Linked DNA regions of Homo sapiens. The protein of the gene in region 1 purifies or fractionates together with the protein of each later gene. This does not show direct contact. Each region holds a gene or a part of one and is shown in the gene's direction. Other genes may lie near its edges.

Region 1 (3,987 bases):
TTCCTCCATTCTCAATCTGCTTTCTTCATGGCTGGAAAAGAAAGTTTTCCAGTTAAAAATGATTATGTGCAAAGATAGGAAACATTCCATCAACATTAACATATTTAATAATTTATGATTAATTCAAATGCATAAATTTCACATATTACCAGCTCACATGTTTCTTCAACAGTTCATCAGATAACTATCTTGAAAATTTCTGCTTGAAAATTTGTTCCCTTGACCACCCTTTTGCCCTCTCTTAATCAGTCTCCTCTCTCTCTCTCATCTTTTCTTCCTTCTGCTATCAAACTTTTCCTACTGGATCTCAGCCACCGATCCCAGTTCCCTTTTACTTCCTGGTAGTCTGGCTGTTGATCCCTTTGCTCTGAGGCACTCTAGATTTAAGGTCTTGCCAGTGATGTGACCTTCTCTATGTATTTCAAGTACCTATCAAGAGGTAGGTGGTAGAATGGAAGGACCACAAGCTTAGGTGTCAGAGTGTCCTGGGTTTGAACCCTTGTTCAATTTGTTCTATGGGAAGCTCCTCCTCCTCTCTGAGCCTTCATTCCCTTATCTGCACAATGAGGGTAATAATCTACTTCGCAGCGTGTTGTGAGGAATAAATAAGCTGGAAATTTATTGAGCACTTATAATTCACTATGCACTATTCTAAGAACAGGGCTTATCTCATTTAATCCTCACAACAAATCTATGAGATAAGTACAATCACTTCTCTTGGGTTACCAACGAAAAAACTGAGTTCCAGGGTGGTGAAGAAACTAAAAAGATCACACAACTACAAGAGCAGAGTCAGGATTTGAACCCAGATAGACTGAGCTTAACTACTGGCTGTGCTGCCTCTAATATAAAGCACAAAATAAGAGCTTTTACAAGGTTACACTGGCCTGGTGTGGTGGCTTATACCTGTAATCCGAACACTTTGGGAGGCCAAGGTGGGAGGATAGCTTGAAGCCAGGAGTTTGAGATCATTCTGGGCAACATAGCAAGACCCTGCCTCTACAAAGAAAATGTTTTAATTACCTAGGCATGGTGATGCACACCAGTAGTCCTAGCTACTTGGGAAGCTGAGGTAGGAGGATCACTTGAGCCGAGGAGTTTGAGGTTGCAGTGAGCTGCGATCGCACCACTGCACTGTGAGCCAGGCCTCATTCCCCGATCAGTACCCCCCAAAAATGTTACATTGTAGAGTGAAAAGAATGTAGATGCTAGAGGCTAACAGATCTGGGTTTGAATATTGGCTGTGCCACTGACTAGCTGAGAGATTTATGGAAAATCACTTAATCTCTCCTACTCTGCTTCCACGTCTGTAAAAATTTCATTGCTCCACTTTTCTTCAGGCCTATAATATAGGTTAATATAATCATTTATATAAAATGTTCATCATAGTGTCTGGCTCACAGTAAACATTTGATATATGGCATTTGTTAAAATTAGGATAGGAAGTGACATCAGAAGCACAATAAATATTTGTATAAGACAAAGCATTTATTGTCTCCAGCAAGAACCAAAGTAAAAATTCTTACCATAATTTTCCAGGTCTCAGATTCATGTCCAAACTACTGCTTCTGCTTCAACCTTCCTACCAATGACTTCCTAGTAAAACCCCTTAGCTTTTTTTTTTCTTTTCTTTTTTGAGACGGAGTTTCACTCTGTCACTCAGGCTGGAGTGCAGTGGCACAATCTCGGCTCTCTGCGACCTCCACCTCCCGGATTCAAGCGATTCTCCTGCTTCAGCCTCCCAAGTAGCTGGGATTACAGATGTGCACCACCACACCCAGCTAATTTTGTATTTTTAGTAGAGACCAGATTTCACCATGTTGGCCAGGTTTGTCTCAAACTCCTGACCTCAGGTGATCCACCCACCTTGGCCTCCCAAAGTGCTGGGATTATAGGCGTGAGCCACAGTGCCCGGCTGGCCCCTTCACTTTAGAAGGGAGGGTGTCCGCCCCCTGGGCTCTGCTCAATCCTACCAGTGGGTGTTTATAAAGTAGGTTCTGATATAGGTATGGGAACCCTGCATCCCAAATTTTCTAGGGCAATTCTGATTTTCTTCTCCCTTATCAGACTGTATGGCAAACAAAGTGTCCCAAGTTGAGAGTCAGAAAACAGTATCACCAAAAATATAGGCTATCACTTGTTTTCTTGCTCCATGCATCTTTGAAAATAAAATGCTGTCCTTTGTGCCCAGATTATACTAAAAAAAATAACAAAATAAACCTAGGACCTATGCCTCTTGCCATGCCATTAGTCTACAATTTTTTTTTTTTTTTAAGACAAACTCTTGCTCTATCACCCAGGCTGGAGTACAGTGGCATGATCTCGGCTCACTGCAACCTTCTCCTCCTGGGTTCAAGTGATTCTCCTGCCTCAGCCTCTAGAGTAGCTGGGATTACAGGCATGCACCACCATGCCCGGCTAATTTTTTGTATTTTTAGTAGAGACGGGATTTCACCATGCTGGCCAGGCTTGTCTTGAACTCCTGACCTCGTGATCCCCCTGCCTCAGCCTCCCAAAGTGCTAGGATTACAGGTGGGAGCCACGGCACCCAGCCTAGTCTGCTCTTTTTCTCCTAAAATAAGGTGGTGGATTTATGAATACAAAGAGTCTAAGAATGGTGGACTAGGTCTAGCAATGCTGTTCCTCAGCAGCTTTTTGGACAGAAGTCTTTGTAGACCTGTGGCTCTCTCACTTGATGTAGACCCATTTGAATGAATCTCCTTTTGCTTTCTCTTTCTTTAATATTTTTCAGGTACGAGCAGGTGATAATAAATATATGCACTTGAAAGTATTCAAAAGTCTTCCCGGACAAAATGAGGACTTGGTACTTACTGGATACCAGGTTGACAAAAACAAGGATGACGAGCTGACGGGCTTTTAGCAGCATGTACCCAAAGTGTTCTGATTCCTTCAACTGGCTACTGAGTCATGATCCTTGCTGATAAATATAACCATCAATAAAGAAGCATTCTTTTCCAAAGAAATTATTTCTTCAATTATTTCTCATTTATTGTATTAAGCAGAAATTACCTTTTCTTTCTCAAAATCAGTGTTATTGCTTTAGAGTATAAACTCCATATAAATTGATGGCAATTGGAAATCTTATAAAAACTAGTCAAGCCTAATGCAACTGGCTAAAGGATAGTACCACCCTCACCCCCACCATAGGCAGGCTGGATCGTGGACTATCAATTCACCAGCCTCCTTGTTCCCTGTGGCTGCTGATAACCCAACATTCCATCTCTACCCTCATACTTCAAAATTAAATCAAGTATTTTACAAAGTGTGTGTGTGTGTGTGTGTGTGTATATATATACTTTTTTTTTTTTTTTTTTTTTGAGACAGAGTCTCGTTCTGTCACCCAGGCTAGAGTGCAATGGTGTGATCTCGGCTCACTGCAACCTCCACCTCCCAGGTTTAAGCGATTCTCCCATCTCAGCCTCCCAAGTAGCTGGGATTACAGGCACCTACCACTGCGCCTAGCTAATTTTTGTATTTTTAGTAGAGACAGGGTTTTGCCATGTTGGCCAGGCTGGTTTCGAACTCCTGACCCTAGGTGATCTGCTCGCCTTGGCTTCCCAAAGTGCTGGGATTACAGGTGTGAGCCACCTTGCCCAGTCTATATTTTTATTCTGAAACAAACTTAAACATAGAGAAAAGTTGCAAAAAAAAAAAACCCACTTTTTTTCCTGGACATTTGAGACTAAGTTACTTACCATGATGCCCCATCATCAACAAATACTTCAGTGTGCATTTCCTACAAACAAGGATATTCTCCTGCAAAACTGAAATACAACCATCAAAATCAGGAAATTGCCAGGTCGCAGTGGCTCACGCCTGTAATCCCAGCACTTTGGTAGGCCAAGGCAGCAGGATTGCTTGAGGACAGGAATTTAAGACAAACCTGGGCAACATAGCGAGACCATGTCTCTACAAAAAGAAATTAGAAATTAGCTGGGCATGGTGGTATGCACCTGTAGTCCTAGC
Region 2 (3,987 bases), on another chromosome or scaffold:
ACTGCATACTTGCAGCTTTACCCTAGTGCCTCAGAGGCATCCTCACACCCAGCTCATCTGATATGGCACTCATTGTCCTTCCTCCCAACCTGCTCATCTTCCTACCTTCCTTGCCTTGGTGAGTGGCACTATCCATCTAGTTACCCAAACCGGAGATCTGGAAGCCACCAACAGTTCTTTTTAACCCCTTGATCTATTATTGATCATTTTCTCTTTCCATCACCATAACACAACTGTCTTGTAGTCATACCCTCCATCCCCTTCCCATTGCTACTTCCTAGACTTAGGTCATCATTTATCTTCTTAATTACTATCAAAGAGAACATTTATCTCTTAGACTACTGCAGTCAGCTCTCAATTGATCTCTCTCTCTTTTTTTTTTGAGACGGAGTCTCTGTCACCCAGGCTGGAGTGCAGTGGTGCGATCTTGGCTCACTGCAGCCTCCACCCCCAGGGTTCTAGCTATTCTCCTGCCTCAGCCTCCCAAGTAGCTGGGATTACAGGCACCTGCCACCAGGCTCGGCTAATTGTTTTGTATTTTTAATAGAGACAGGGTTTCGCCATGTTGGCCAGGCTGGTCTCAAACTCCTGACCTCAGGTGATCCACCTACCTCAGCCTCCCAAAGTGCTAGGATTACAGGCATGATTCACTGCACCCAGCCTGATCTCTCTTAATATCCAAATTCATCCTCAACGCTGCTGGAATGATCTTTCTGATCATGTAACTTTTAAAAAATATTTCAATAACTTGTCTAGAATAAACACCCAGATTTTTAATATGACAAGTTTTGACCTTCCATGATCTGGCTGCTCCTTACTTTTTGTTTCATCCTTAGCCAATCCTTTGCACCCATTGCTTTGTCCTTACCAAACTGCTTGCTGTTCGTGGCATACATGTCCATGGCTCTGTCTTTGCTTATATTGCTCTACTGCCTAGAATATCTACACCTGTGTTTATACCTTTTATCCATCTTTCAGGATGAGACCTACTCATCTTTCAGATCTCAACACCTGGGTCATCTTCTCTAAAAACTTTCTGTGCCTCCTTTCCTGCTTATTTACAGTCATGCAATCTTACCCCATGAAAAATAGCTACTCCTATCTCTCTACTTTGTATCTGTTATTTTAGGGCCTATCAGCAGTTTATTCATCAGTCGGTCACTTATATAATATACATGCCTGGCCCTCTCTACAGATTGTAAACTCCTTAAGAATGAGGACTTCATTTTACATTCCTCACCAATGTCTTACATATTACTGGTATTCAGATAGTTCGAATAGTCACTATTTGTTCTTTGAATAATTCGGTTACTTGTTACTAAAAGTACTTTTAATGATTTTTTGATTAGGACTTTCAACAAATTCTCTATGCATATATTTGATTCTGTTGTTCTGTATAAGCTCACTTTTCTTAAAATAATATTTCCAAAGGTAAGTTTCCCAAGAAGGGAATTTGCACAAATTGTTTGTTCTCTCTTGGTTCTGTGTCTTAGAGGAAAGTACACAGCACCCAGGTTGTCACACATTGCTCAAGAACAGTGATCACAATCTATTATGCTCAACAGGCCCCGCTGGGGATTTTTCTGAAGACCTGACTACGTTATAAACTCACTAATATTGGGACTGGGTCTTCAACTGTTTTTTGCCCAGTGATTTTTTGCCTGTAGGTACTCAATATGTTGAATGAATGATTTTAGCATATCACAGGAAGATTGCAGATTTGGATACTGTTGCACTTATATATATCTGGAAAGGATTTTATCTTAAATATCAAGGAAAAAAGCTAAAGTTAGCTTCTACTGTTTTAGAGCATTTGTGCAGAATGTCATCAGATGAGGAGAAATACTCACTTCCAGTTGTGCAAAATGACTCCAGTCGAGGCAGTTCTGTCTCTTCGAATCTTCAGGTAGGAAAAAATTTCTAAATTTACCATGACTTTTTTTATTTTAAACAAATGAATGTAAGGGAAAACTAGGATTTTTTAATAATTTTTTCATCCATTTACAAGGGAGTTTTTCAATTTATAATAATATCAAACTTCAGGAATTACTGTACACATTTTAGGAGTGACTTTACATTGTTTTAACTTTTCAGAAAATATTGATGAACTCTTCATACACTCTGTACAAAGGCTTCAACCAACACAGTAAGAGGTGAAACAAATGTTCAAGAAACATTTTTTTGTTTAAATTTTTTTCATTTTAGCTACCTCTCATGAATGCTACTTTCACTTTTAATGCAAATTAATACAATATCAAACCATCCAAAGTTCTAGAGCTCAAGATTCCCTTGTGTTCTACTTGCTGAGGTTTGGTCTCTGTTGTCACAACATTCAGTACAATCTGCTGCCCAGGACCTGGACATTGACAGATAAAATGAAGTGGGTCAGTTAACTACAGAGGGTGTGGTATTTACATGAAATGTTTTAAATTTCTCTTATTTCTAAATATTTCATCATCAAAAATATGGATTTAGATTTCTGGAGTAGATTTTAAATATGAGAATAATGACATGGTATATCTTAAATTTTACAGTTGTATTACTCAAGGGGAAAGGCTGTTTATGCCTAAGCATATGAAATTGTTATTGATTCTGTACGATATGAGAAAAGCTTTAGGAAAATATTTTATGAAACAAATTTGTTCCTTTAATCGAAATTATGGATTTCAAAATGGGGAAGGTATTGGGAAAATATCTGAATATTTACAGGATAAAACTAGTCTGGAGTTGTGGCAGAGCTTTTGCACCCTAGCCTTCCCTTTTGATGGTACCTGTCCCATGTAGTCCTCTCTTCAGGTGACAGTACTTCCTCCACCCTTCATCGCTGTCTGATTGAAACTTGAAGATAGAACTGATTAACTCATTTATACTAAAATGTAAACACCTTGTGAGCTCTCAAATTTCATTTCGTGAAGAGATAAAGCTTTAAATCAAAAGAATAACTCTCTAGAGTGGAATTTTAGAGAGACGGAAGAAGAACCTGCCAGAAATTATTTTGTGTTATTGTTTACCCACCTATAATGTAAGCTCAACTGAGAGTCTATTACTGTCAACTAATGTTCCTACTGGTTCTTGGACTGAAGTTGAAAGCCTCTCCATATTCCCTGTACATACAGTGTTATTACTTTGGGTTTCACTACTGGAAGCACTTCAAAATATAAATACAAAAAAAAATCTTAAAAATAACATAAAATACACATTTTTACATATGTAGTAAATATGTAAATCCAAACATTTAATACAAAAGCCCCTCATAAATAAATATTCCTCTTAAGGAACTTTTTTGTTACTCTCTTTTTATGCGAATGCTTCATAAGCCAGAAGGTGGTAAATGCTGAGGGATGGGCAGCATCCATAGTGCTTATACACTGAAAATTTCCTCTAACCACAGCTCCTATCAGCCAAGTTGCTCTGACTCTAATGGTTGAGGCATGGGTGGAGCTATATTTCAGGGTCATATCAATTCAGCTCTTGGGGGTTGGGGAGGGGGGCAAAATTACAAGTTTTGAATGTTAACAGAGGTTATGTTTGGCAATTAAGAAAGCCAATATTGTTTATTTTGATTCTTAATTTTAAATTTTATTTTTAAATAACTTATTTGGCTTGTGTCTACATATATGAAACTCTAAAATAGTCATTTAAATAACTGATTTTTTCTAAATGTTTTCTTGAAATAAGTTGGAATATATGGTCATGGAATACTATTGACATATACTTATTTATTTCCCCTTTAAGCCATAGCAATTGTGGTAAAATATATGAAATATATGAATATGTATGAAGTATATGATTTGAAATATGTGTTTGGATCTTTTTTTTCCTTCTCTTATCCAGAGCAGAAGTCAGACTAGGGAAGCCACAAGTGAAAGCCACTGACTTCCACTTCTCCCTCCGTTCCTACATGCTAGAGGTGGTGATAGGCTAACTCTGAGTAGAGCTGACTTGGCTAAATCTAGTTGCAACTGACACCACAGCAGGAACACTATA
Region 3 (3,987 bases), on another chromosome or scaffold:
CCTCGCAGGCATATGACAGAGGTGTGGCTTCTCACACCTTTGGTTGCCCTTGCCCTACCACCCAAACCCCTAGGGGGAGCATGCAGAGGGGCAGGTGCAGAGGCCATGGGGGGTGCTTTTGGGCTCTGGCCCCACAGCAGTGTCTAGGAGTGGATGTTGGAGACTCCTGAAGCCCAAGTGGGCATGTGTTACAGTGTGCTCTTTCAGCTTAGCCGTCTGCAGATGGCTTGTGTTAATCAGGTCATTAGACCCCATGCCTTATTGCAAGGGCAGGGGTCCAATGTGACAGCCTAAGTTCTTGCTCAGTGTACCAGAAGAATTGGATCACACGTGGGCTGGAAGGATGAGCACAAGGTTTTATTGAGTGGTGGAGGTGGCTCTCCGCGAGACGACTCTCAGCCAGAGAAGGAGGATGGAGGGGAAAGGTGTTCTTCCCCTGGAGTCCACTTGTTCCTGTTCTCCTCTGGGTTCAAATACCTCTTCCCTCCTTTTCTGCTGTGCTGTCCCACCACTCTCCACAGCTCTGTGCCGCTCTGTTCCTCTGCTCCTCTGGATGTTCAGCTCCTTGTATCTGTGCCTGCTAAGATTTTGGGTTTATATGGGGGAAGGATGGGGGGCATGGCGGGCCAAAAGGCACCTTTTTTGGTGTGAAAACAGAAATGCCTGTCTTCTCTTAGGGCCTTAGGTCTTCAGGCTTGAGGGTGGGGCCTTTGCTGAGGGACCACCCTCTTCTACCCAGTATTTCCCTGTCTCCTGTCCATATCAACATTACTAACTTTTTCATCTGCAGACTAATAATGCTAAGGTGTGGCATTTTTCAACTGTGAGACTATGTGAAGGTTTTTCCTGTCCAACTGATGGCATCCTCCCATAATTCTACCCCTTTCTTAAAAGAATCTTTTGCAGTATTTCTCCAAGTTTATTCTAGAGAATTTCTTGTCTGTGAAATGCTCTAGTTAATCAAAATTGGAAAACGGAGCATATCATATCCCCTTCTCAAATTCACCAAAGTGAAGTCCTAATGTGTCTTAATGTATCTGCATGAGACAGGAAGCTGAGATCTATTCAACAACAAAAATCCAAACAAGCATCAAGAGGAGGAGTGTTAGCACTTGAGCCTAGGGAGACTGTGGCTCCTGCCTGAAAGATGGGAGCCTCAGTCACAGCTGCTTTACCAAGTGTCATATGCTATGTTTCTGAGGACTCCTGCTAAAGCTCCCTTCTCCCTCCAGCCAACCACTTTTGTTTTAGACAAGGGCTGGGTTTATGAAGGACTGTTTTCATGACTAAAGCTTTATAGAAGGTTTAAGATAAGGAGATGGAATTGAGTGAAGTAGGAAATATGAAAGCAGATATTATAATCTGGCTTCCTGATTTTTCACTAGCATTTTTGTTTATAAATTAGTTCTGTTCTAAGAATCCAATGACGTAATAGAAACTCTCAAAGATTCTTAACTTGAGATATAGGGAGTCTTTGAAACTGCTGAAATTACAGACAGCATTTATTGTTTATGAGCATTTCTGAATCTAGAGCTTTCACTAGATTTGTAAAGAATGTGGGCCAAAAGATTAAGAGCCAATCCTGTATCTTGTACTCAAAATGTTTGTAATTCTCACCTTTTTATCCCCCAGACTCCTCTTGCTCTCTCTTCATTTTCACAGTGTTACTGGAAAGGGGTCCTGATCCAGACCCCAAGAGAGGGCTCTTGGATCTTGTGCAAGAAAGAATTTAGGGCGAGTCCTCAATGCAAAGTGAAAGCAAGTTTATTAAGAAAGTAAAGGAATAAAAGAATGGCTACTCCATAGACAGAGCAGCCCTGAGGGCAGCTGGTTGTCCATTTTTATGGTTATTTCTTGATTGTATGCTAAACAAGGGATGGATTATTCATGCCTCCCCTTTTTAGACCATAGAGGGTAACTTCCTGACATTGTCATGGCATTCTTTTTTTTTTTTGACAGAGTCTCACTGTGTTGTCCAGGCTGGAGTGCGGTAAAGCAATCTTGGCTCACTGCAACCTCTGCCTCCTGGGTTTAAATGATTCTCCTGCCTCAGCCTCCCAAGTAGCTGGGATTACAGGCATGACCCACCATGCCCAGCCAATTTTTGTATTTTTAGTTGAAACAGGGTTTTGCCATGTTGGCCAGGCTGGTCTTGAACTCCTGACTTCAGGTGATCTGCCTACCTTGGCCTCCCAAAGTGCTGCAATTACAGATGTGAGCCACCAAACCTGGCCTGTCATGGCATTCTTAAACTGTCATGGTGCTGGTGGGAGTGTAGCAGTGAGGAAGACCAGAGGTCACTCTCATCGCCATCTTGGTTTTGGTGGGTTTTAGCTGGCTTCTTTACTGCAGCCTGTCTGTTCTATCAGCAAGGTCTTTATGACCTGAATCTTGTGCTGACCTCCTATCTCATTCTATGACTTAGAATGCCTTAACTGTCTGGGAATGCAGCCCAGTAGGTCTCAGCCTCATCTTACCCAGCTCCTATTCAAGATGGAGTTGCTCTGGGTCAAACACCTTTGACAACATCATTAAGCCTCAGTTCTCACACTGTTTTTGTTTTGTTTGTGTGTGCAATGATGGGCAAATCTCTGCCTTATAGGATGGTAGAAAAAAGGAACTTAATATTGTAATGACTGTTTTGTGCCAGATAATTGCTTTAAACTGTATCAGCATCTTATTTAGTCCTGTTAATGATATGAATGTTATCTTCATAACAGCTGCCATTTTATTAAGGACTTATCAGAGAAAAACACTGTTCTAAGCACTTGTTACCCATTATTACATTGAATTTTCATAACAACCCTTTGAGGTAAGCATGATTATACCCACTTTAATAGAAGTGAACTGTAGTTTTGTAATGTTAGGTTCCTTGCCAAATGTTACACAGATAGTAAGTGATAAAATCATATGCCCTGAAATTACATTATGCTGCCAAACTTAAATTTCTTTTTTATCCTTTATATTAGTATATTCTTAGGTTTAAACAAGACAACTAGTTAACACATACTAGATTTTGTCCACAGTTCCTGGCTCATAACTCCCATAGCCCTTGTCACTATCTTTTAACGTTGGGGCACATTAGGCCTCAGAAGTAGGCCTCAGAAAACAGAGTCTCTCTCTCTCTCTCTCTCTGATCTTCTTCCGCCCTCCTCTCACCTGCCCAGGGCAGCACTCTAATCTTCTCCTGCCTTTCTGATCTTGGGTCATAAGACCTTCATTTCCAAAGATGTCCTGTGTCATACCCTAAAGGAAGGAACACTGAACAGAGAGAGGCTCAGAAGAATCTGGACAGGCCTTGCTGTGTTTACATCATTCCCTTTATGTCCAGTCACATCTCTACATGGTTGTCAGTTGTGCCTATTTGATGAAGTCCCCATATAAGGCTCACAAGGACAGGGTGCAGAGAGCTTCCAGATAGCTGAACAAGTGGAAGTTCCTGGAGGGTGGCGTGTTCAGGGAGGGCATGGAAGCTGTGTGCCCCTTCCCCCATACCTTGCCCTACTCATTTCTTCATCTGTTTCATTTGTAGTATCTTTTATAATAAACCACTAAACATTAGTTAGTATTTCTCTGAGTTCTGTGAGTCACTCTAGCAAATTAATTGAACCCAAGGAGGGTGTCATAGGATCCCCACATTATAGCTGGTTGGCCAGAAGCACAGGTAAACAACCTAGGGCTTTCAATTGGCATGAGAAGTAGGGGGCAGTTTTGTGGGACGGAGCCCTCAGCCTGTGAGATCTGATGCCATCTCTAAGTACACAGTGTCAAAACTGGATTGGAGGACACCCAGCTAGTATTCACTGTGAAATTGGTTGCTTGCTTGATTTGTGGGGAAAAACCCACATGCATTTGATCACAGAAGTCTTTTGTGTTGACAGTTGATAGTGTTCAGTGAGAGAATTAAAAAAAAATTGAGTTTCTTCTTCAACATACTCTCTCAATGTGAAACCACAGAAACTATTTCCATTCAAAGATGGAAATGGT
Region 4 (3,987 bases), on another chromosome or scaffold:
CACTCTTCTGTCTTTGGTCAACATGAGTCTGGCTCAGGACATTCCTCTGCTTACAGTCAGCATGGTAGTGGCTCAGGGCACTTCTGTAGCCAAGGACAGCATGGTTCTACATCAGGACAGTCATCAACCTTTGACCAGGAGGGATCTAGCACAGGCCAGTCTTCCAGCTATGGCCACCGTGGCTCTGGCTCCAGTCAGTCTTCTGGCTATGGCCGACATGGGGCTGGATCTGGCCAGTCTCCTAGTCGCGGCCGACATGGGTCCGGTTCTGGGCACTCTTCCAGCTACGGCCAACATGGGTCTGGCTCCGGTTGGTCTTCCAGCAGTGGCCGACATGGGTCTGGCTCAGGTCAGTCTTCTGGATTTGGTCACCACGAGTCTAGCTCATGGCAGTCCTCTGGTTGCACTCAGCATGGATCTGGCTCAGGTCACTCCTCCAGCTACGAACAACACGGCTCTAGGTCAGGACAGTCATCTAGGGGTGAACGACACGGATCTAGCTCAGGTTCATCTTCCAGCTATGGTCAGCATGGGTCTGGCTCCCGTCAGTCTTTGGGCCACGGCCAACATGGGTCTGGATCTGGCCAGTCTCCTAGCCCTAGCCGTGGCCGACATGGGTCTGGTTCTGGGCAGTCTTCCAGCTACAGCCCATATGGGTCTGGCTCAGGGTGGTCTTCCAGCCGTGGCCCATATGAGTCTGGCTCCAGTCACTCTTCTGGCTTAGGTCACCGAGAGTCTCGCTCAGGACAGTCCTCTGGCTACGGTCAACATGGATCTAGCTCAGGTCATTCCTCTACCCATGGGCAACATGGTTCTACATCAGGACAGTCATCGAGCTGTGGCCAACATGGAGCTAGCTCAGGTCAGTCTTCCAGCCACGGTCAGCATGGCTCTGGCTCAAGTCAGTCTTCTGGCTATGGCCGACAGGGCTCTGGATCTGGCCAGTCTCCAGGCCACGGCCAGCGTGGGTCTGGGTCAAGGCAGTCTCCCAGCTACGGCCGACATGGGTCTGGCTCCGGTCGGTCTTCCAGCAGTGGCCAACATGGGTCTGGCTTAGGCGAGTCTTCTGGCTTTGGTCACCACGAGTCTAGCTCAGGGCAGTCCTCTAGTTACAGTCAGCATGGGTCTGGCTCAGGTCACTCCTCTGGCTACGGACAACACGGCTCTAGATCAGGACAGTCATCTAGGGGTGAACGACACGGATCTAGCTCACGTTCGTCTTCCCGCTATGGTCAGCATGGGTCTGGCTCCCGTCAGTCTTCGGGCCACGGCCGACAAGGGTCTGGATCTGGCCAGTCCCCTAGCCGCGGCCGACATGGGTCCGGTTTGGGGCACTCCTCCAGCCACGGCCAACATGGGTCTGGCTCAGGTCGTTCTTCCAGCCGTGGCCCATATGAGTCTCGCTCGGGTCACTCTTCTGTCTTTGGTCAACATGAGTCTGGCTCAGGACATTCCTCTGCTTACAGTCAGCATGGTAGTGGCTCAGGGCACTTCTGTAGCCAAGGACAGCATGGTTCTACATCAGGACAGTCATCAACCTTTGACCAGGAGGGATCTAGCACAGGTCAGTCTTCCAGCCACGGTCAGCATGGCTCTGGCTCAAGTCAGTCTTCTAGCTATGGCCAACAGGGCTCTGGATCTGGCCAGTCTCCTAGTCGCGGCCGACATGGGTCCGGTTCCGGGCACTCTTCCAGCTACGGCCAACATGGGTCTGGCTCCGGTTGGTCTTCCAGCAGTGGCCGACATGGGTCTGGCTCAGGTCAGTCTTCTGGATTTGGTCACCATGAGTCTAGCTCATGGCAGTCCTCTGGTTACACTCAGCATGGATCTGGCTCAGGTCACTCCTCCAGCTACGAACAACACGGCTCTAGGTCAGGACAGTCATCTAGGGGTGAACAACACGGATCTAGCTCAGGTTCATCTTCCAGCTATGGTCAGCATGGGTCTGGCTCCCGTCAGTCTTTGGGCCACGGCCAACATGGGTCTGGATCTGGCCAGTCTCCTAGCCCTAGCCGTGGCCGACATGGGTCTGGTTCTGGGCAGTCTTCCAGCTACGGCCCATATGGGTCTGGCTCAGGGTGGTCTTCCAGCCGTGGCCCATATGAGTCTGGCTCCGGTCACTCTTCTGGCTTAGGTCACCGAGAGTCTCGCTCAGGACAGTCCTCTGGCTACGGTCAACATGGATCTAGCTCAGGTCATTCCTCTACCCATGGGCAACATGGTTCTGCATCAGGACAGTCATCGAGCTGTGGCCAACATGGAGCTAGCTCAGGTCAGTCTTCCAGCCACGGTCAGCATGGCTCTGGCTCAAGTCAGTCTTCTGGCTATGGCCGACAGGGCTCTGGATCTGGCCAGTCTCCAGGCCACGGCCAGCGTGGGTCTGGGTCAAGGCAGTCTCCCAGCTATGGCCGACATGGGTCTGGCTCCGGTCGGTCTTCCAGCAGTGGCCAACATGGGCCTGGCTTAGGCGAGTCTTCTGGCTTTGGTCACCACGAGTCTAGCTCAGGGCAGTCCTCTAGTTACAGTCAGCATGGGTCTGGCTCAGGTCACTCCTCTGGCTACGGACAACACGGCTCTAGATCAGGACAGTCATCTAGGGGTGAACGACACGGATCTAGCTCAGGTTCGTCTTCCCGCTATGGTCAGCATGGGTCTGGCTCCCGTCAGTCTTCGGGCCACGGCCGACAAGGGTCTGGATCTGGCCATTCCCCTAGCCGCGGCCGACATGGGTCCGGTTCGGGGCACTCCTCCAGCCACGGCCAACATGGGTCTGGCTCAGGTCGTTCTTCCAGCCGTGGCCCATATGAGTCTCGCTCGGGTCACTCTTCTGTCTTTGGTCAACATGAGTCTGGCTCAGGACATTCCTCTGCTTACAGTCAGCATGGTAGTGGCTCAGGGCACTTCTGTAGCCAAGGACAGCATGGTTCTACATCAGGACAGTCATCAACCTTTGACCAGGAGGGATCTAGCACAGGTCAGTCTTCCAGCCACGGTCAGCATGGCTCTGGCTCAAGTCAGTCTTCTAGCTATGGCCAACAGGGCTCTGGATCTGGCCAGTCTCCTAGTCGCGGCCGACATGGGTCCGGTTCCGGGCACTCTTCCAGCTACGGCCAACATGGGTCTGGCTCCGGTTGGTCTTCCAGCAGTGGCCGACATGGGTCTGGCTCAGGTCAGTCTTCTGGATTTGGTCACCACGAGTCTAGCTCATGGCAGTCCTCTGGTTACACTCAGCATGGATCTGGCTCAGGTCACTCCTCCAGCTACGAACAACACGGCTCTAGGTCAGGACAGTCATCTAGGGGTGAACGACACGGATCTAGCTCAGGTTCATCTTCCAGCTATGGTCAGCATGGGTCTGGCTCCCGTCAGTCTTTGGGCCACGGCCAACATGGGTCTGGATCTGGCCAGTCTCCTAGCCCTAGCCGTGGCCGACATGGGTCTGGTTCTGGGCAGTCTTCCAGCTACAGCCCATATGGGTCTGGCTCAGGGTGGTCTTCCAGCCGTGGCCCATATGAGTCTGGCTCCGGTCACTCTTCTGGCTTAGGTCACCGAGAGTCTCGCTCAGGACAGTCCTCTGGCTACGGTCAACATGGATCTAGCTCAGGTCATTCCTCTACCCATGGGCAACATGGTTCTACATCAGGACAGTCATCGAGCTGTGGCCAACATGGAGCTAGCTCAGGTCAGTCTTCCAGCCACGGTCAGCATGGCTCTGGCTCAAGTCAGTCTTCTGGCTATGGCCGACAGGGCTCTGGATCTGGCCAGTCTCCAGGCCACGGCCAGCGTGGGTCTGGGTCAAGGCAGTCTCCCAGCTACGGCCGACATGGGTCTGGCTCCGGTCGGTCTTCCAGCAGTGGCCAACATGGGTCTGGCTTAGGCGAGTCTTCTGGCTTTGGTCACCACGAGTCTAGCTCAGGGCAGTCCTCTAGTTACAGTCAGCATGGGTCTGGCTCAGGTCACTCCTCTGGCTACGGACAACACGGCTCT
Region 5 (3,987 bases), on another chromosome or scaffold:
GTGCCTGAGCCTAATGCTCTTTGAAAAAATTTTTTTTTCTTTTTTGTTGTTGTTTTGAAACGGGGTCTCCCTCTGCCACCTAGGCTGGAGTGCAGTGGCGTGGTTACGGCTCACTGCAGCCTCCACCTCCCAGGCTTAATTGATTCTCCCACCTCAGCCTCCCGAGTAGCTGGGACTACAGACACACGCCACCACGCCAAGCTAATTTTTGTATGTTTTGTAGAGATGGGGTCTTGCCATGTTGCCCAGGCTGGTCTCAAACTCCTGGGCTCAAGCAATCTGCCTGCCTTGGCCTCCAAAAGTGCTGGGATTACAGGCATGAGACATGGCTTGTGGCCACTAATGCTCTATTTTTGTCACTCACTCACTGCATCTTTCTCCAGGGCCGCCTCTGCTCCAGGCACTGTCCTGGGTGCTTCTACCCTTGGCCAAACCAGCACATTGGCTTCTGTTCATGTGCTGCTTGCTTTTTGTCATCTGACAGGATGTCAGCTAGGCTTTTCAGCAAGGGTCATAATACATGTGATGTGACGATATGTTAAAAGTCCAGCCTGCAAATGCCTGTCACCCTATTTCCATCCCACTGCTGGGCACACCACGCACATCTGGTGCTCATCTCAGGGGAGTCAAGGAATTCCAGGCTGGTTTTCCTAGCCATGAACATGTTAGCTACCGTAGTCAGTGTGTAATTTCATGAGATCTGAAATATAAGATTGCCCTAGTTTTCTGCTTACAATCTGGTTCTTGTGCCTGGGTGCAGGTTTCCATCGTGTGGGAAGAACGGAGTAACGAGTCTCACGCAGAAAAAGGTCTTGAGAGCACCTTGTGGCGCACCCAGTGTAACTGTGACGGTAGGTGATGCACTCACGTAGCAGCCCTCTTTGGTCACCTTGCTAAAAATGCTTTTGCACACCGTTTCTAGGAGGTGCCTTACCCTGCTGGGCACCATCGCCGCCCAGTTGCTCTGCTAGGTGCTGTTATACATACTCTGCTGATTTTTAATTATGATCATCATTTTTGCCTGTGGTGAGGCTGCCGGGTGTGAGGAAATTGTCTTAGACTTATTCTTCCAGCCAAATCCTAAAATCTTGAGATTTTTAAAATAAAGGAAAAGAAAAAGAAGAGAAAAAAAAAGTTTAAAGAATGAGGGGAAGGATAAGAGCTGGTGGTGGTTGAGGGGTTTGTAGCTGTGGTTCTGCCTTGCTCATGTTTTCTTTAGAATCTAGACAGCCTTCTCATCCTTAGGATTTCCTTCAGCTTTCTGTTTTCCTGTTCTTTGATCTGCCTGCTCTCTGATTTATTCTGCACCCTGAGCATTTTGTGTGTTTCCCACGCCAATCTGCATGCCCAGTTGAGATCACTGTGTAGAAGGATCCGCCTGCTTTCCGCTGTGCTTCACTAAATCCAAGGAGGAGCTGTGCATTCCAGCAGGTTTAGAGGAGATCCAGCCCTAAGAACCCTGGGGCCGGCGTCTGGGATCTGTTCTGGAACGGGTGGGTCTTGCAGACCCTCTCTTGAGTGGACCAGAATCTCCCTTGTGGTCTTCTGCTGGGATCTCTGCAGGAGCCTGCTGAATGATACTCCCGCCTTACTCCCTGCCTGCATGCCAGTAGTTGGTAGCTGTCCTGCTCGCTTGGTGGCTAGGCTTTTTGGTGGCCCCCAGAGGCTGTGAGCTCTGTTTTTATGCCCAGTTTACTCATCCACAGATCAACCATTTTTGTGTTGTCCTCCCCCACCTGCCAGAAGCCAACCATGAAGGACCGCTCTTCAACTCCCCCCTTACATGTTCACGTGGATGAGAACACCCCTGTCCACGTCCACATAAAAAAACTCCCGAAACCATCAGCGACCAGCAGCCAGGTAGGAGCATGCCAGTGGGGCGAGGTAGTAGCTGTGGATCTGGGTGATCCTGCTAAGCCCAGCCTCCTCGCACTCTGACTCCAAAGGTTTGGGAGACAAACACACTCTTTCGGAGGCCGGTTTCCTGGTTAGAAGGTAGGCAGGCCTGTCATCCAGGAGCAACAGCAGTAACATTAGTCAGAAGAGGCACTCTGCTAGTCGGAGAGGGATGTCACTAGCGTGGCACCGTGGCCAGCTGGGTGTGGAAGTGACCCTGGGTTTGTCCCTTTCCACAGAAATCTCACAAGCGAGGAATGAAAGGGGACACTGTGAATGTGCGGCGGAGTGTCCGGGTGAAAACCAAGGTACCTTGGATGCCCCCTGGAAAATCATCTGCCCGGCCTGTGGGATGCAAGTGGGAGGTAGGCTCACCCTTGCCCAGGCTTTTCTTCTCGGACTGCTCAGATCCTAGCAGGCCTCAGCCTCGGTATGATTCAGGGTCAGCTATAGCTACTGGAATGTCCTAACAGACCCCATTTACTGAGGGCCTTGCTAAACCCTGAAACTATGTGAATCTTCTTGAGTTCTTATGATACTGCTGTGTGGGAAGTCCTGCTGTCCAAAGGCAGAGATGAGGAACCAGACCTCAGAGAGAAGTGATTTTCCCAGAGTCACAGAGAAGTTAGCAGAGCTGGAGTTAAGATTCATTCTAGAGGCAGTACTCTTAGCCTCTCTGCTTTGCTTGTGAGGAGCCACATCACATGTATTTTCTTTTCTTTTCTTTTCTTTTTGAGACAGAGCCTTGCTCTGTCGCCCAGGCTGGAGTGCAGTGGCATGATCTTGGCTCATTGCAACCTCTGCCTCCCAGGTTCAAGTGATTCTCCAGCCTCAGCCTCCCTAGTAGCTGGGACTACAGGCGCCCGCCACCACTTACGTCTGATTTTTAAATTTTTAGTAGAGATGGGGTTTCATCGTGTTGGCCAGGCTGGTCTCGAACTCCTGACCTCAGGTGATCCGCCCGCCTCGGCCTCCCAAGGTGTTGGGATTACAGGCGTGAGCCACCACAGCCAGCCTATTTTTCTTATAGTTTATTACATTAGAAATCTTTCATACCAGCAGTGAAAAGAAAAAAAAATAGAAATGAAAAACAAAAGTAACTCCTTGAAGTTTATAGTCATACCTCATAAAACTATGTCAAAACTGACTCCTTGATTTACCAGACAAAGGAGACTCCTTTCCCTTAGAGACAAAGGGAGTATGGGGCTTTCTTAGGATTAAATGGAAACTGCTCTGACCAGTACAATAAATTAAAAGGATTGAAATTAGACTGCTGCCTTACATTTTTTACTACATATACTTCACTAATAATCAGTGAAATGTAAATTAAAAGCCACAGTATATTTTTTTTAAAACAAAAACAATGAGCTTTTTTCTTGAATGGAAAAAGTTTAAAAAATGACAACTATCTCCTGCCAGCAAGCATATGGGATATCAATGAATCTTTTTTTTTTTTTTCCGAAATGGAGTTTCGCTCTTGTTGCCCTTGCCCAGGCTGGAGTGCAGTGGCGCGATCTTGGCTCACCACAACCTCCGCCTCCTGGGTCAAGCGATTCTCCTGCCTCAGCCTGCTGAGTAGCTAGGATTACAGGCATGCACCACCATCCCGGCTAGTTTTGTATTTTTAGTAGAGATAGGGTTTGTCCATGTTGGTCAGGCTGGTCTCGAACTCCCGACCTCAGGTGATCAGCCCACCTCAGCCTCCCAAAGTGCTGGGATTACAGGTGTGAGCCACCACACCCGGCCCGAATCTTTTAAAACGTTTTTTATAGGACTGTGAACCTGATTCAGCTGTTCTGGAGTCAGTTTGGCAGGACTTGTCTAAACATTGATTCTGTAATTTTTCGTCTAGGAAGTTGTCCTAAAAACATCATAGAAGAGTACAGGGATTTTGTTTTTTTGTTTTTTTTTTTTTGAGACGGAGTCTCGCTCTGTCACCCAGGCTGGAGTGCAGTGGTGCAATCTCGGCCCACTGCAAGCTCCGCCTCCCGGGTTCACACCATTCTTCTGCCTCAGCCTCCCGAGTAGCTGGGACTATAAGTGCCCGCCACCATGCCCGGCTAATTTTTTATGGTAGAGACGGGGTTTCAC
Region 6 (3,987 bases), on another chromosome or scaffold:
CCTTTCCTTGAACCAGAGGATTGGACCAGTGCCTCCACTTGATGGACACAGGAAGGCAGCCCGGAAACTTACTCAGGGACTGGAAGCTCAGATCTCAGATTAACCATCTATCATAAATAACCCAGAGTAGATAATCCATGTTCAGAGAAGTGAGTTTACTGTACAGAAATTTCAGCACTTTTGATATCTTTTCACATACTGTTCTGCAACTGGCTATCCCTGTTCTTGGATGATCTTAATGTTATTATTATAGGTTGTCAAAATCTGTCACCAGTAAATGCTTTGTTCTTCAGTTTCCAATTTGCATGGGGTGTGTGAGGAGGACTTCAGGGTATAGGCTGGCTTTTCTATCTTGATTTTTTGCCCTCTGGCCTTTGACAGTGCTTCATGCTGGGCTGTTTTTCTCCATAATTATATTTTTTAAGCCACTGTATTGAGATATGATTGACATACAAAAAGCTGTGCATACATAATAATTTAATCATATTTTAAGTGATGATTTTATCCAAAGCTTGAATGTGCAATGACCAAAATAAAGTTAAAGGAAAGGTGGGTTTGGGAAGCACAGTCACTGTATTGTCGCTCCTCTTTCAGGTCGGAGTTCAGGTTTTCACCAAGAGACCTTTGGATGAACAGCAGAAGAACAGTTTTAATCCAGACGACATTATCAATTGCCTTAAAAAATACCCTAAAGCCCTTGTGAAGTATCTGGAACATCTTGTGATAGACAAGAGACTGCAGGTGAGCACTGCAGAAGTTAGACTAAAGAGTGTGGGCTGGAGAGACGGAATTGAACTAGAACACTTTTTGGCATGTGATTCTGTGTAATGTCTGTTCCCTGGGTGATCCATCCGTACTTGTTGATGGTCTGATGGCGGCCTTGAGGCTTGCGGAAAGAGACCTGGAGCAATAGGTAGCTTTATTTTTTTCTCCGTCCGTCTCACACCCACTCAGCTTTTATTTTTCCTCTCTTTTCCTTCTTTGTTATTATCCTTAAAGGAAATAAAGGGAGCTATACCTTTTTGTAGGTTATCTAAATTCTGTGGCCCTTACTTCTTGAAATAAGAGGTGACATTTTGTTCTATTCCCCATAGATGGTAAACTCATCTCAGTATCATGGTTTCTGAGAGGGTTTCGATCCAGCAAGTGAGCATCTGCCCAGCTCATGTCAGTGCAGCCGCGGTCTCCAAGCCCTGGCTGACAGGGGAGAGCTTTGACTTTCCCACTTGAAAACACTGTCTGTCTGCTTGGCTCCCCCTGTTTCCTGCAGAAAGAAGAGTATCACACCCACTTAGCTGTGCTGTACCTGGAAGAGGTGCTGCTGCAGAGGGCCTCCGCCAGTGGCAAGGGTGCAGAGGCCACCGAGACGCAGGCCAAGCTGCGGCGGCTGCTCCAGAAATCTGATTTATACCGAGTCCACTTTCTTCTCGGTGAGGATGATCTCAGTATTGTCTCCCTTTGGAAAAAACTCATATCAAGCGGGTGGGAGGAAGCAGAGAGAAGGGCTTTGGCACAGCTGCTGGTTGATTGCACAGGGTGATTCTTTGAGCCTCTTTTTTTAAAAAGATTTTTTTAAATGAAGACAGGGTGTCGCTTTGTCACCCAGGCTGGTCTCAAACTCATGGCCTCAAGTGATCTTCCTGCTTCTGCCTCCTAAGGTGCTGGGATTATAGGCGTGAGCCACCACACTCAGCCCTTGAGCCTCTTTTGACAGAGTCAGCCTCCTTGCAGGGAGAAATAAGGCTTCTCGTGCCTCTAGAGATGGACCGTGCCTCTAGATGGACGGTGCCCTTTGATTGATGATGTTGGTGCTGCCCTGGTAGACTTTAGACGTCTGTGTGTCTCTTGACACACAGTGTCTTTATTCAATGTCAAAGCACTGAGTCATAGTTCCCTCTGACGGCTTCAGTCTCTGATCAAGGCTTTGCAGTAGGCACTGCCCCCAGCGACCCATTCCCGAGCTGCTCAAGGCTCAGGTCCCTCGAGCTCTAAGCAAGAAGGTTATGCAGGTGTCTTGGAGGGCATTTGGGTTTCTGTTCCTCAGGGGTACAGAGGCCACAGTTTCTGTATTGTGTAAAGTTCCACAGCGCAGCATGGTGCTTGCAACTGGTAGAATTAACTAGTTTCTTGCCACATTAAGAATTTCTGCATTTATACTCACTGGGGTTAGTGATGTGTTTTTCTTTAATGGCCTTTAATACCATTTTTTGACCAATAACAAAGCATATCTAACACACGTGTTGTCTCCATAAAGCACATCACAACCTTCCAGAGCTTAGGAGCGCTAGGCAGCACTTCAGCACTACACTGAAATCACCAACAAGAAGCACCAAAATGCAAAAAAGCATGGCAATAAATAGCCCGTGAAAAGGAAACGTGTAGCTAGTACGACAGCTGAAGCAAGGAAGGAGGGCGCTCCTTCTTTGGCCTCAGCTCTGCATCAGGCTCTGTGCTTGTCGTAAATGACCTTGAAGCTGCTGCGAGTGTTGATTGGGAGGTTACAAATAAATTTCAGCGAGTAGATGACTTTGTAAATACAGAATCCACAAATAATGAGGATTGACTAGATATGCCCAGCATAGGTTGAAACGCTGAGGCTGCCTTATGACACAGTTTCCACAACAACCCTGTGAAGTGAGGCCTGTTTTTCCTCCATTTTTACAGAAGAGTGCACTGAAGCCCAGAGAGGTTACCCCGCTTGCCACAGGTCACACAGCCCACGAGCAGTAGAGCCAGAACACAGGTGTGGGTTGGTATTTCATGAAACCAGCAAACACTAGTTCTGGCTTGTACCTGCACCTACATTAGGACTTTCTGTGGCGATCCGCTGTGCAATCTCTGTTCACTCACAGCCACCGTCCCTGACTGATCAGTGCCAGGGTGTCCCAGCTATTGAATTTTTACTCACTCCTGACTTATTCTTTTTGCTTTACAAATCTCCTTATAAAACTCTCAGGCCAGCCACAAGTGTGTGGTTCAATGTTTGCATTCCGCCAGCTTTTCTGAGTATGTAGAGTGTGTCACTGTGCATTGAGGATACAAAGATGGATGAGACTTGGTCCTGGTCCTCAGAGACTCAGAGTTTAATTGGAATGCAGTTAAGGGCAGGTACAGTTCTAGAAGGGCCGAGGAACCCACGAGCTGTGCCTTGGGGTGGAGGGGTCAGAGGCAGCCTCCCGGAAGAGGCCCTATATGAGCAGTCATTAGGTATAAGCCTGGGCTTGCAGGTAGCACAGGGGAGCTTTCAGGCAATGGGGGTATCCCCCGCAGCACTGTGGGAGGAGCACTGGAAATCCAAACACTGATTTTGTATCCCTTCTTAGTTAGATGACTTGGGGAAATGTCAGTCTAGGGAAGTTGTAAAAACGATTCCAGCCCAACCTATCCACTCGGGGTGGCTGTGGGAGTCAAATATAAATGAGATGATAGATGTGGAAGTGTAAATCACCACAGTGATCTTTTCTTAACTGTCTTTGTACCTCACCCAGGGTCTTAACTATGGCAGCCACTTAGTAATTATTTGTTGGCCTTCCACTGTGAGGATGAAGGCGTTGCGTATTGTGGCTTCTGTGTCTAGTGCTATAAGGGATGTACCTTGCAGGGCCAGCCCTTGGCTACACAGGTAGCAATGTCTGCCATGTTCTTCAGGCCTAAGCGACAGCCAAGATTCAAATGCCTATAATTTGATTATTAGTCTTGACCCTAAACTAGGGGTTGTCCTCATAATATTTCTTCACAGTAGGAAGAGATCTTATAATCTCTTGAGGATGTAAAAACAGATGAGCCTCACTTCTGGTCCTTAGAGACTCAGAGTTTAATTGCAATGCAGATAAGGGCTGGTGCAGTTCCAGACGGGCTGGGTGGGAAGTTACAGATGGGGTTACAGATGGGGTAGGAAGCAAGGTGACTTTGCCCGTGAGACACAGCCCACTAAGGGTGGGGCCTTGGTCAGGAATGACGCTTTGGGTTATGTCATTTTCCTTAGGA
Region 7 (3,987 bases), on another chromosome or scaffold:
GAATTCTTGGCAGCGGCTCCAGGCTGGGCACATTAGATGCTGTCATGTGACTGGCCTGGTGGCCACCTCTTGGTTCTCTGGAAATGTGTCCACTCTGTGCTCAGGGAAGAAGGCTGCCGTCCTGACCTGTCAGCCACCAGGCCCTCTCTGAACTCCTCACTTGACCCGGAGGCATTGGGAGCAAACACAAAGCTCGCCCCTGGTGTCAGTGGTGCAGACAGAGGAAAAGCAGAGGGTCCGCAAAATGCAACTCCTCCGTGGTGAGACTTTGAAAAGGTGTAGAGTGGTTGCAGACAAACAGCAAAGGAGTGGAATGGAAAAATCTCTCTTGCTCCCCACAAGAAGTCCACTCCCCTACGGATTCCTCAGATGCCACTGGCTGGCACAGCCTTTCCCGCCCTTGGTGTGGGAGCAGCAGAAGTCCAGCGGGGGTGGGAGAATCATCGGGGTCAGGTCAGTGTCTCCCTCGTCTGAAGTCAACCACTACTTTTCCCTCAAGCCTACCAAAGAGCTAAAGTCTGATCTGTAGATGTCTGATGGTTTGAGGAGAAGAAAAGATAGTCTTTTAGAGAAGTGGGGAGTATCCAACTTAGGGTCAAAATACACTGAGATTAGGCCGGGCACAGTGGCTCACACCTGTAATCCCAGTGCTTTGGGAGGCCGAGGCGGATGGATCACTTGAGGCCTCCAGGAGTTCGAGACCAGCCTGGCCAACATGGCGAAACCCCGTCTCTACTAAAATACAAAAAATTAGCTGGATGTGGTGGTGGGTGCCTGTAATCTCAGCTACTCAAGGAGGCTGAGGCACAAGAATAGCTTGAACCGGGAGATGGAAGATGCAGTGAGCCAAGATCACGCCCCTGCACTCCAGCCTGGGCGACAGAGACTCCGTCAAAAAAAAAAAAAAAATACATTGAGATTACCAGGTGGGGTATGTGTGGTTCTTCCAGGAAAGTGCTGAAAATATCACCCAGGCCTCTGCGCCACGCCCTGGGAGAGTACACTCCTGGGCTCACGCCTCTGCATTCCAAGGCTGACAGCTAGAAATATACTTTGTAAAATACCAACAACTTATTCACAAATATTCCAACTATCTACCAGCTCCAATGAGCTTGCTGAGGATGGGTATGACCCCAGTCTAAGGGGAAAGAATCTAAAACACAAGTAAACCTGTTTAAAGGCCAGATCTCCAGATGGAGATCCAAGCAGATGGCGCCTAAGGTTTGCCCTTGAAAACTACCAAGGAAGCCACAGAGAGGGATCTTTGGACCTTCTGGAAAATGGTAAGGCCCCAGGTAGATTATGGCTCCTCTGCCCTGGAGGCTGAGCCGCCCCTCTGGTTACCTCACATCTTCTGGTTTCTTCTGAGTGGGACTTGATCTCATTTCTGCATTCACAGCAAGGTGGAACTGTCTGGCAAGAGCTTAAATTAGGACCTGTGGTGGGGACTTTAATAGGCAGGTGGAGGTTTGAGATCCAGTGAGATGCCAGAGATTAGTCAATAGGTGAGGAAAGATTTGGCCCAAATCAAAAGAGCTAAAAAAAAAATAATAAAATAAAAATAAAAATAAAATAGTTGAACAAATAAGGTTCATGAAAAAAAAAGAAAAGAAAGAAAAGGTAAAGAAAAGAAATCCATGATAAAATATCAAACTTTTTAATAAAAACAAGTCTGGCCCTGTACTTGGATGACCCCACCTGGCTTGTCTAACCCTAATCCCAGCCCCAGTTTTAATAAAACTGTATTTACAAAATAGGCAGCTGGGACGTGGACCAGAGATACCAATTTGATTTTTTTTAAATATTACATTAAAATATTACATCATGTGTCTTCATTACTGAGTTTTGGGGTAGCCCTTTAAATTTTGTATGCAAGGTGAATACCTCACCCCTCTCTCCTGGCCTAGAATCTGGGGGATCCTCCTGTCCCTCCCACAGTGCCTGATAGCACAGCCTGGGGCTGGTGGTGTGCCTGTTTGCCTAGCTTTATCTCTCCAGATACTATTTGGGGTGTGCTGTTCTAAGAAGTGATTAGGTTAGCTTTTGCATATTAACAAACTACCTCTGAAACTTAGTGGCTTAAACCAACAAATGTATTAGCTTTATAATGATTTGGATCAGTGATGGGGGCTGGGCACGGACAGGCGATTCTTCTGCTGGGCTTGGCTGAACTCAACTATGTCTTATGGTCAGAGGGCAGTCAGGGGCTTCGCTCATGTCTGGTAGTTGGCTGTTGGCTGAGCCCTTGGTTCTCCTCTGGCTTAGGCTTGTTCACATGGTGGCCTCGGGGCTCCCATGGCAGTTAGAGAAATCAAGCCCAAGTCTCATATCACGTTCACTATTCTCCCATTGTCCAAAGCAGACCACATGGCCAAGGCCCAAGTCTGTGTGAAAGGATGTGGATACAGGGACCCCGAATGAACCAGAGGCAATACTGCTGCAAGCTACCACATAGATGCTGTTCAGAGCTTTGCAGGACCAAATCTTTTAGGGCTGTTTTTCCATTGTGGTATACCCTCTCCATTTAGATTCAATTGAACAAATATATTCTTTGGGGCTGCAGTGTGTCAGATGTGGAGACATGGTCCCACTGGCTTTCAAGTTGCCATCCATCTTCTAGGGAGAATTTCTGGCCTTTTCGGATGGCATGGTCCAGGCCGGAGCACCAGCCCCAGGTTGAAACATCAGGCAGGTTTCTAGGAAATGGTTGCAAAATTAGCAAAAAGTCAGGGCTACAGAGCCCTATCCAGAGTCGTCATCTTAAGGTGTCTACTAAAGCCTGGGGGTGGATGGGATCTCAGAAGGGGGACTAGAGAAATAGGAAACTGGGGACAGAACCCGGGGGTGAGAAAGAAGACAGCAGGTGTTGTGGGAAGTCAGGGACCCCAAACGGAGGGACTGGCTGAAGCCATGACAGAAGAACGTGGATTGTGATGATTTCATGGACATTTATTAGTTCCCCCAAATTAATACTTTTGTAATTTCTTATGCCTGTCTTTACTACAGTCTCTAAACATAAGTTGTGAATATTTCATGGACACTTATCACTTCCCCAGTCAATACCCTTGTGATTTCCTATGCCTGTCTTTACTTTAATCTCTTAATCCTGTCAGCTGAGGGGGATGTATGTTGCCTCAGGACCCTGTAATAATTGCATTAACTGCACAAATTGTACAGCATGTGTGTTTGCGCAATATGAAATCTGAGCACCTTGAAAAAAGAACAGGGTAACAGCAATTGTTCAGGGAATAAGAGAGATAACCTTAAACTCTGACCACTGGTGAGTCGGGCGGAACAGAGCCATATTTCTCTTCTTTCAAAAGCAAATGGGAGAAATATCGCTGAATTCTTTTTCTCAGCATGGAACATCCCCTGAGAAAGAGAATGCACACCTGGGGGTGGGTCTCTGAACTGGCCCCCCTCCCCCGGGGGCGTGGTCGTCTCTTATGGTCGAGGCTGCAGAGATGAAATAAACTCCAGTCTCCCATAGCGCTCCCAGGCTTATTAGGAGGAGGAAATTCCCGCCTAATAAATTTTGGTCAGACCGGTTGCTCTCAAACCCTGTCTCCTGATAAGATGTTATCAATGACAATGGTGCCCAAAACTTCATTAGCAATTTTAATTTTGCCTTGGTCCTGTGGTCCTGTGATCTCGCCCTGCCTCCACTTGCCTTGTGATATTCTATTACCCTGTTAAGTACTTGATGTCTGTCACCCACACCTATTCGCACACTCCCTCCCCTTTTGAAAATCCCTAATAAAAACTTGCTGGTTTTTGTGGCTTGTGGGGCATCACGGATCCTACCAACGTGTGATGTCTCCCCCGGACACCCAGCTTTACAATTTCTCTCTTTTGTACTCTGTCCCTTTATTTCTCAAGCCGGCCGACGCTTAGGAAAAATAGAAAAGAACCTATGTGATTACTGGGGCAGGTTCCCCGATAGGCAGGTGCAGGAGTTTCAAGGAAGGAGGAGGAGGAGGACTAGGG

The links.
Region 2: the proteins of CSTA (region 1) and POC5 purify together in Homo sapiens (co-immunoprecipitation; one large-scale study listed by IntAct). This does not show direct contact.
Region 3: the proteins of CSTA (region 1) and CTSC purify together in Homo sapiens (affinity purification with mass spectrometry; one large-scale study listed by BioGRID and IntAct). This does not show direct contact.
Region 4: the proteins of CSTA (region 1) and HRNR purify together in Homo sapiens (affinity purification with mass spectrometry; one large-scale study listed by BioGRID and IntAct). This does not show direct contact.
Region 5: the proteins of CSTA (region 1) and ODF2 purify together in Homo sapiens (co-immunoprecipitation; one large-scale study listed by IntAct). This does not show direct contact.
Region 6: the proteins of CSTA (region 1) and TGFBRAP1 purify together in Homo sapiens (affinity purification with mass spectrometry; one large-scale study listed by BioGRID and IntAct). This does not show direct contact.
Region 7: the proteins of CSTA (region 1) and ARMC9 purify together in Homo sapiens (co-immunoprecipitation; one large-scale study listed by IntAct). This does not show direct contact.

The regions. Positions count from the first base shown.
Region 1 is NC_000003.12:122,338,687-122,342,673, forward strand, and holds the end of CSTA (cystatin-A), read left to right. Parts: intron 1-2,752; coding exon 2,753-2,881; 3' UTR 2,882-3,283; downstream 3,284-3,987. UniProt on the Homo sapiens protein: This is an intracellular thiol proteinase inhibitor. Has an important role in desmosome-mediated cell-cell adhesion in the lower levels of the epidermis.
Region 2 is NC_000005.10:75,710,773-75,714,759, reverse strand, and holds part of POC5 (centrosomal protein POC5), read left to right. Parts: intron 1-1,808; 5' UTR 1,809-1,822; coding exon 1,823-1,906; intron 1,907-2,099; exon of another isoform or gene 2,100-2,153; intron 2,154-2,327; exon of another isoform or gene 2,328-2,375; coding exon of another isoform or gene 2,376-2,384; intron 2,385-3,987. UniProt on the Homo sapiens protein: Essential for the assembly of the distal half of centrioles, required for centriole elongation. Acts as a negative regulator of centriole elongation.
Region 3 is NC_000011.10:88,303,063-88,307,049, reverse strand, and holds part of CTSC (dipeptidyl peptidase 1 isoform a preproprotein), read left to right. Parts: intron 1-3,987. UniProt on the Homo sapiens protein: Thiol protease. Has dipeptidylpeptidase activity. Active against a broad range of dipeptide substrates composed of both polar and hydrophobic amino acids. Proline cannot occupy the P1 position and arginine cannot occupy the P2 position of the substrate.
Region 4 is NC_000001.11:152,213,805-152,217,791, reverse strand, and holds part of HRNR (hornerin), read left to right. Parts: coding exon 1-3,987. UniProt on the Homo sapiens protein: Component of the epidermal cornified cell envelopes.
Region 5 is NC_000009.12:128,458,807-128,462,793, forward strand, and holds part of ODF2 (outer dense fiber protein 2), read left to right. Parts: intron 1-760; coding exon 761-851; intron 852-1,351; exon of another isoform or gene 1,352-1,493; intron 1,494-1,706; exon of another isoform or gene 1,707-1,743; coding exon 1,744-1,860; intron 1,861-2,135; coding exon 2,136-2,261; intron 2,262-3,987. UniProt on the Homo sapiens protein: Seems to be a major component of sperm tail outer dense fibers (ODF).
Region 6 is NC_000002.12:105,270,298-105,274,284, reverse strand, and holds part of TGFBRAP1 (transforming growth factor-beta receptor-associated protein 1), read left to right. Parts: intron 1-594; coding exon 595-741; intron 742-1,270; coding exon 1,271-1,430; intron 1,431-3,987. UniProt on the Homo sapiens protein: Plays a role in the TGF-beta/activin signaling pathway. It associates with inactive heteromeric TGF-beta and activin receptor complexes, mainly through the type II receptor, and is released upon activation of signaling.
Region 7 is NC_000002.12:231,373,003-231,376,989, forward strand, and holds the end of ARMC9 (lisH domain-containing protein ARMC9), read left to right. Parts: 3' UTR 1-3,846; downstream 3,847-3,987. UniProt on the Homo sapiens protein: Involved in ciliogenesis. It is required for appropriate acetylation and polyglutamylation of ciliary microtubules, and regulation of cilium length. Acts as a positive regulator of hedgehog (Hh)signaling.